Homo sapiens: one gene and its partner. The protein of the gene in region 1 binds, or shares a complex with, the protein of each later gene. Each region holds a gene or a part of one and is shown on either strand. Other genes may lie near its edges. The genes, in order: LDLRAP1 and AP2B1.

Region 1 (3,912 bases):
TGCCAGCCGGACACCACCAGCTGCCCTTGGCCAGTCTGCCCTGGGTGATCACTTTTCCTCCCTGCTTCAGAATGCTCTCTCTACTATTCCAGAATCTAGCTGGCTTGGGATAAGTGAGCTGGGGGCACTCAGCCCTGTGGACCCATCTACCTATTGCCACAGCCCTTTTGCAGAAGGCAGCCTGGTTTGGTGAAAAGCTGGAGAAAGGGAGAAGGGGAGGAAAGGAGGGAGGAAGGACAGGAACACTGACTGTGTTCCAACTCCATTTGGACCCCTTACTAGGCATTTGGGATTCAGAAATGAATCAGAAAAACTTCCTGCTTTTGGAGGGTACAAAGTCTAATGGAGATGAGAGGAGTATAAACAGGCAGCAGTAGTGCTTGCAATCCTGAAAGTTCAGGACTGTGGGCGCCCACAAAGAGAAACTTAATCCATGGGTGGTAGTCAGGGAAGCCTTCCTGGAGGAGGCAACTTTAAAGGTGGGTTCTCAAGAACAGGATTCAGCCATTCCAACTCCTGTTATTTAGTCCTTAAGGACAGCCCTGTGAAATAGATATAGTTGTCCCTTTTACAGATGAGGCTCAGAAGGGTGAGTTCACAACCACCAGAAGGACAGCTGGGTTCTAACCCCTGGCATTATACTCTACCCCATTGCCTATGGGCCTGAGTCTGATCCCAGTCTCTGACTCTCGGAGACTATCAGTGAATGCTTCCCTCCCTGACCTAGGGCTGTCATCTGTAAAGTGGGTCCACCTAAGCAGTGTTGCTGGGGAAGCCAAGGACAGACTGGCTAACAAAGCACTTGGTTTATAAACAGGGGAATGTCAGTGAGGCCGCCCTATCCAGCTGGGGACAGCACAGCACTATCTTTCTCCCGACACAGAGAGGACTGCTGGCTTCTGAGCCAGGAGTAATTACAGAGGTTGAAGTTGGCCTTGCCTGAGGCACCCCCTTCTAAAAGAAGCCAGGCTGTGGCTTGGATGTGTGTGTCCTCCCTCTGGCTCCTTTTGGCACAGTTTGAAAGGAAGGCATGGCATCCTAGAGAGTTAGAACAAATCCTTCCAATCCTGGAGTTAGAACATCTGTGCCTGAGCAATTCTGGGGTTCAGACTGCCCTCCGAATGCTCCTAGGAAGCAGCTTGGGGTCAGGGTCAAGGTCATGCAGATTCTTGACCCTGGCAGGTTGGAAGGATCACTAGAGATAGCATTGACTCTCATTCACAGATAAACAAGACTCAGAGAGGGGAAGTACTTGCCTGAGGTCACACAGCAAGTCAGTGTCAGGGGCACGTTCCAGATCATACCATCTGTGAGGCTACCTGGGAAGTTGCGGGGGCATGGGGTGGCCCAGCATGCTCAGGTGGTGCCAGGGAGCAGCCTGGGAGCTACGAGGATGAGTAAAGTGCCTGGCTGGACTTGCTAAAGGCAAATTTTTATATACCGACCCTGCGCCTAACAAGGGTCTATACTGCAAGCTTGTCCAACCTGTGGCCCACTGGCCATGTGAGGTCCAGGACGGCTTTGAATGGAGCCCAACACAAATTGGTAAAGGTTCTTAAAACATTATGAGATTTTTTTGGGCAGGGTGTGGTGGCTCACAGCCATCCCAGCACTTTGGGAGGCTGAGGCGGGCAGATCACTTGAGGTCAGGAGTTCGAGACCAGCCTGGCCAACATGGTAAAACTCCATCTCTATTAATAATACAAAAATTAGCCAGGCATGGTGGTGCATGCCTGTAATCCCAGCTACTCGGGAGGCTGAGGCATGAGAATAGCTTGAACCCGGGAGGTAGAGGTTGCAGTGACCCGAGATCGCACCACTGCACTCCAACCTGGGCAACAGAGTGAAACTCTGTCTCAGGGGAAAAAAAACAATACAGAAAAACAAAAAACATGAGTGTGTGTGTATATATATATATTTCAGCTCATCAGCTGTCGTTAGTGTTAGTGTATTTCATGTGTGGCCCAAGACACTTCTTCTTCCAATGTGGCCTAAGGAAGCCAAAAGTTTGGATATCCCTGGCTTACAGCCTCCACTATTTCCTAAGTCTCCCACTGCCCTGGACATCGCATTGCTTTTGTCCCTGAACAAGATCTTTCACCACTGGAGGAGCCCTCAGTCTCCCCATCTGTAAAATGGTCACTGGAAATCCTAGGCCGCTGCTCTCAGGCCCTCAGGCCCCTACGGGGTGGGGATTGGGGAAAAGGAGGAAAGCGGGGGCGTCTAGGGCTTGCGATTTGCTATCTTCTGGCGCCTTCGGGCGGCCTCGGAAACTCTTGGTGCCTGGACCTGGAGCCTGGACAGGGACCGGGCGGGGCGAGACCGGCCGTCGGGGGCGCGGCCCGTCTGGGGGCGGGGCCTGTCCTCTCTCGCCCCGCCCCGTCGGACGCCGCGGCGGAGCTGGCGCTGGGAGGGGAGGAGCGCGCAGCCCGCGCGCCGCAGGGCCGGGCGGAAAGTTTTTCCTGACGGAGTTTTGGCTGCGGCAGCGGCGGCGGCGGCCGGAGCGGGCCATGGACGCGCTCAAGTCGGCGGGGCGGGCGCTGATCCGGAGCCCCAGCTTGGCCAAGCAGAGCTGGGGGGGCGGTGGCCGGCACCGCAGTGAGTGTGCGCGCGTCAGCCGGGCCGGGCCGGGATCGGGCAGAGGCGCGCGGGGCCTCCGCGGGCGCCCGGAGTGCGGCCAAGTTGGGCAGAGGCGGGGCCTCACCGGCGCTCCGGTCCCGGCGTGGCCCTTTCCCGGCCCTGCGGGGCAGGGGGTCGGCCGGGGTCAAGTTGTGCACCTACTCGCCGGCCGCTCGATGCCGCTGCGAGGAGGGGCAGCGCTGAGGAAGGAGCCCGAGCTCGGGGTCCTCAGGTGCAGCCGGCATGGGGTGGGGTGCAGGTTGGGAGAAGAGGCCCCCGCCACCCGCGGCACCTCCCGCCCTGCTGTCCTGGCCAGCTAGGGGGAGGCAGGCGCTCGTCGTCGGTGCCTAGGGGAGGAGGAGAGGGCGCAGGGGCTTGGGAAGACGCCCCCGTCCCGCACCCCTGCGCCCCAGCCAGCAGCTGCGGCGGTCAGGAGCCCACTGGCCCGTTCTCCCGCCCCCTGCCCGACCCACCGGGCCAACTTTTGACTCCGGGTGCCCAGACACCCATCCAGGTGTGAGCCCGGGGTCGCAGGTACGTACTTGAAATTGGGAACGAGGCCCCGCCTGGGGTGCCTCGGGAGAGCCCCACATCAGGCGATCTAGACCCTTACGTCCCTTCCTCTAGCCGGGTCCAGGTGGCAAGCCTGGCGTCCCGACTATTTTTGAAACCTGTTTTCTCTCGCACCTTTCCCCTCGGGCTTCCAGAGTCCCTTGGGTGCCCAGGCAAACGACAGACTCGCCGCCACCTCTCCCTGGGGCGTCTGGGAGGCTGGGAGGGGCCTCCCCCCCTTTCTCTCCCCCAGTCTCTGATTACGCTCAGGGAACTTGTCACCTGGCACCTTCCCCTGAAGCCAGAAGACCCAGCCTAGCGCAGGTCTCGTTGTTTGGGAGGGAGAAGAGAGTGGCTTGCCTGGGGTCACACACACCTTCCTGCTGGTTTTGGAGCCAGAGCCCAGGACTGCTGCACACTCCCACCTCCCTGCCACCTACTTCGGGCCACAGCTTCTCCCCTCATCAGGAAACAACTGACAGTACAGCACCCCCTCATCCCATCCCCTCTTGGCCTTACAGGGCTCTGCCAGGGGAGCCCGAGCTCCCTGGTCCAAGGAGTGCCAGCGTGTCTGGGCCTAGAGGGCCCGCCTCCCTCCTCCTCTGGCCCCACTCTGTTGTTCAGCTGTGGCCGCCTCCCAGCTGAGACTGGCATTGGCATTGGGAATGTGGGGTGGTGCCTGCTGGTGGGGGGTGGGGTCAGAGACCCATTAGGGCTGGGCCACTAGGCCAGGGGATGTAC
Region 2 (3,912 bases), on another chromosome or scaffold:
GATCCGCCCGCCTCCCAAAGTGCTGGGATTACAGGCGTGAGCCACCGCGACCGGCTGTAACTTCTAATGAAGACGTCAGTTTTTGCCATCCTGTATTTTGGAGACTCTGGCTATGTCCATATCTAGCATGTGATTAAGTGTATCTCTCATTATATGAGGTGAGAACTCATTATATGAGAGATACACTGAATCATATATATATGTGATTTTTTTTTGAGGTGAAATTCACGTACCATAAAATTAACCAGGTTAAGGCATACAGTTCAGTGGCATTTAGTACACTGACAGTGTTGTGCAACAATCATGTCTTCTGATTTGTTTTTATTTACACTATTTTCATTTTTCTTGGAGTTTCTTTTGGCTTAAGGCAAGAACCAGCTTGGCACCATGTTTCTCTGCCAATATGGTTAGGGAATATTTTGTTACTATTGTTTACAATATGGTTACTAGAGTGATATCCCTTCTCTTTAGAGCAGCAGGGACTCTTAATTTAGAATCTATCTTATAGGCTTCTAAAGATACTTGACCCTCCTCTCTTCCCTGAAATTTTGTGGGTGGGTGCATTATTTTCTAGTTAAGACAAGAACACTTAATGCTCACAGTGAACAGGATAGTAATATATTCCTTGACATTGAAATTGTTAGGGGAGATAATGAAATATGTGAGCTACTGATAAAGGTATGACTTAAGACTTAGGTTAATTTATTGTTTAATAGAATGTAGTGAAAATGCCTGTTAAGAATTTACTCATGCCTGTAATCCCAGCACTTTGGGAGGCCGAGGTGGATGGATAACTTGATGTCAGGAGTTCCAGACCAGCCTGGCTAACAAGGAAAAACCCTGTCTCTACTAAAATACAAAAATTAGCTGGGCGTGGTAGTGGGTGCCTGTAGTCCCAGCTACTCTGAAGGCTAAGGCAGGAGAATCACTTGAACCTGGGAGGCAAAGGTTGGAGTGAGCCCAAATTGAACCACTGCACTGGAGCCTGGGCCACAGTGAGATTTTGTCTCAAAAAAAAAAAAAAAAAAAAAAGAATTTAATGGGCTGGGCACGGTGATCCCAACATGTAGTCCCAGCTACTCGGGAGGCTGAGGCAGGAGGATTGCTTGAGCCCAGAAGGCAGATGTTGCAGTGAGTCCCAGCTGGGACTACAGGCATGTGCTACCATGCCCGGCTAATTTTTGTATTTTTATTAGAGACGGAGTTTCGCCACGTTCCCCAGACTGGTCTCGATCTCCTGAGCTCAAGCCATCCGCACGCCTCGTCCTCCCAAAGTGTTGGGATTACAGGCGTGAGCCACCGTGCCTGGCCAAAAAAAATTTAATATGTGTATGTATAAGAGGCTTTTCAGAGAAATTGGGTGACAAATTCTAAGGAGGTTTTGTTTTAAAATCTTAAACAAGTTTTAAAGGACATAGCATAGCATAGTAAATATCCTAGACAGATTGTAATGGATTTGAGCTATAGTCCTTCTTTGAGGCTCAAGTAATCGTTTCTGTTTACTGGTTTTTCTGTTTGTATATATACATTCATAAATAACTTCAGATTTATTCCAGGTCTTTTATGTGAAGAATTCCTTTCTTCATTTGCCCACTTCACATTTAGTTTACATTATGAATGGACTAAATGATTATAACATTCTTTGAATTTTTGCTAGAAACACATTGTAAAAACATTGCATAAGGCAAGCTTCAGTATAATTTTTAATTATAACAAGTATTAAAGGAGAAATTTCTATATTCTGTAATGATATTTGTGAGTCCTAGCTCACTTCTTTTAACAAGATCATTCTGTGAATTTCTGGTACAATCTAAAGAGCTATTAGGATCAAGACTATAAATAGTAATTAGCTGGTTGGAAAGATAGCAAATGAGTCTAATTTCCATTAAACTGTACAAGTAGCACGTTTTAGAGATCAGATTTGAACCAGAAGTTTTTCATTATTTTATGTTTATCTGGCTCTTTTTTCTTTTCTTTAATTACATTGATTTGTTTGGTGCTTAGGTCTTTTCTCCTAGATCCATATTTACTATTGTTTGCCAAATACATTATGTCATATTGACCTGATAATAATGAGCAGGTGCCAGCATGTCTTGTCCTGAAGTTGGTGATAAGTATTATTAGTGATGGTGATAAGGAAAAAGATACTCATTTTGAGTACAGAAGGAATATTATTAAAAAATATATGTATATTTATATATTTTTTTCCCCTTGAGACAAGGTCTCTGTCGCTGAGGCTGGAGTGCAGTGGTGAGATCATAGCTCCCTGTAGCCTTGATCTCCTAAGCTCAAGCGATCCACACACCTCAGCCTCCCAAGTAGCTGAGACTACAGGTACATGCCACCATGCCTGAGCCACCGCGCCTGGCCCAAATTCCTATTTATTTATTTATTTATTTGAGATGGACTTTTGCTCTGTTGCCCAGGCTGGAGTGCAGTGGCGTGATCTCGGCTTACTGCAGCTTCCGCCTCCCAGGTCCAAGCGATTCTCCTGCCTCAGCCTCCCAAGTAGCTGGGATTAAAGGCACGTGCCACCATGCCCAGCTAAATTTTGTATTTTTAGCAGAGACAGGATTTCACCATGTTGGCGAGGCTGGTCTTGAACTCCTGACCTCAAGTGATCCACCCGGCAGCCTCACAAAGTGCTGGGATTACAGGCGTGAGCTACTGTGCCTGGCCCCAAAATTTTAATATATTTAAAGAAGTCTGGTACATTGGACAAAGTCTTATAGTTTCTCAAATCAGAAAAAGTAGTCTTATTATTTAGTAAAAATGTGACCAGACTGTGCCGTTTTTGTTAGTAGAGCCATTTGTCATCTGGATTACTTCTTCTGGAAATTGGGATGGAAGAGTTAAGGTTGAGGTTGAGATCCACGTTCTTTTGTTTCAACACCAGTTTGATTCTCGTGTCTGAACGGATGTCTCAGTCTTTTGCCTTGTTTTTAACTATAAACTGGCATTATTTGGGAATACTCTTGGGCTAAATCTGGATTGTTGGAAGTAAGAAAGCCACATTTTTTTTTAAATCCAAAAATATAGTTAGATACAATGAATAAGATCTAGTATTTGATAGCACAAAAGGGTGACTGCGGTCAACAATAATTTACTGTACATTTAAAAATAACTAAAAGAATGTAATTGAATTGTTTATAATACAAAGAAAGGATAAATGCTTGAGGTGATGGATATCCCATTTACACTAATGTAATTATTATGCATTGTCTGCCTGTTATCAAAATATCTCATGTACCTATACGCACCTACTAAATACCCACAAAACTAAAAATTAAAAAAATTCCATGCATAAGTCATGGTTGCCTCTCTAGATGTTTGTTGTGAAAGAATATTGTCCTACTAATTTTGAATTTTTTTTTTCTGAAAGAGATTCTTTTTATTGAAAGTTTCATGTCATAGATCGGCAAAATTGTTTTTTCTTTTGACCTTACACTGCTTCAGAATATATGTTTTGGAGTGATTCCAGCTTGAGGCAAGGAAGTTACCAGATTTTCCTGAATGGAAAGTAATTGCAGATATATTTATAAAAAGGTCCAGCTTTAGCTCTTGAAAGCTTTGAGGAGTTACTGTGGATAAAATCACAAAGCCATAATAGGTTCATACTTTTACCCAGTTGCATTTGGCCTTTAGATTTTTGCCCCATTAGCTTGAGGAGTTACATTCTTAGTTTTTCTTGAACCATCAACGGTGGTGATAAAGGAAGATGATACTCATTTTTAGAAATTCTTAAATATAAGTGTTCCTAAAATTAATTGGATGTTCTTAAAATTAATTGGATGCCTTGTTGGATATCTATAACCTGAATGAAGGAATTCTTTTCTCTTGCTATAGGTGCACATTAAAGATCCAAAGTCATGACTGACTCCAAGTATTTCACAACCAATAAAAAAGGTAAGT

What was found.
Region 2: the proteins of LDLRAP1 (region 1) and AP2B1 are in contact, whole or in part, in a crystal structure (PDB 2G30), measured with the Homo sapiens proteins. Residues at the interface, in NP_056442.2 of Homo sapiens: Asp253, Leu255, Asp256, Ala258, Phe259, Ser260, Leu262, Ala263, Gln264, Arg266, Thr267; in NP_001273.1 of Homo sapiens: Arg834, Gln835, Phe837, Leu838, Trp841, Glu849, Gln851, Ile876, Ala877, Arg879, Val881, Glu882, Gln884, Met886, Tyr888, Glu902, Arg904, Ser915.

The regions. Positions count from the first base shown.
Region 1 is NC_000001.11:25,541,189-25,545,100, forward strand, and holds the start of LDLRAP1 (low density lipoprotein receptor adapter protein 1), read left to right. Parts: upstream 1-2,417; 5' UTR 2,418-2,510; coding exon 2,511-2,598; intron 2,599-2,762; exon of another isoform or gene 2,763-3,153; intron 3,154-3,912. UniProt on the Homo sapiens protein: Adapter protein (clathrin-associated sorting protein (CLASP)) required for efficient endocytosis of the LDL receptor (LDLR) in polarized cells such as hepatocytes and lymphocytes, but not in non-polarized cells (fibroblasts).
Region 2 is NC_000017.11:35,590,162-35,594,073, forward strand, and holds part of AP2B1 (AP-2 complex subunit beta), read left to right. Parts: intron 1-3,846; 5' UTR 3,847-3,869; coding exon 3,870-3,906; intron 3,907-3,912. UniProt on the Homo sapiens protein: Component of the adaptor protein complex 2 (AP-2). Adaptor protein complexes function in protein transport via transport vesicles in different membrane traffic pathways.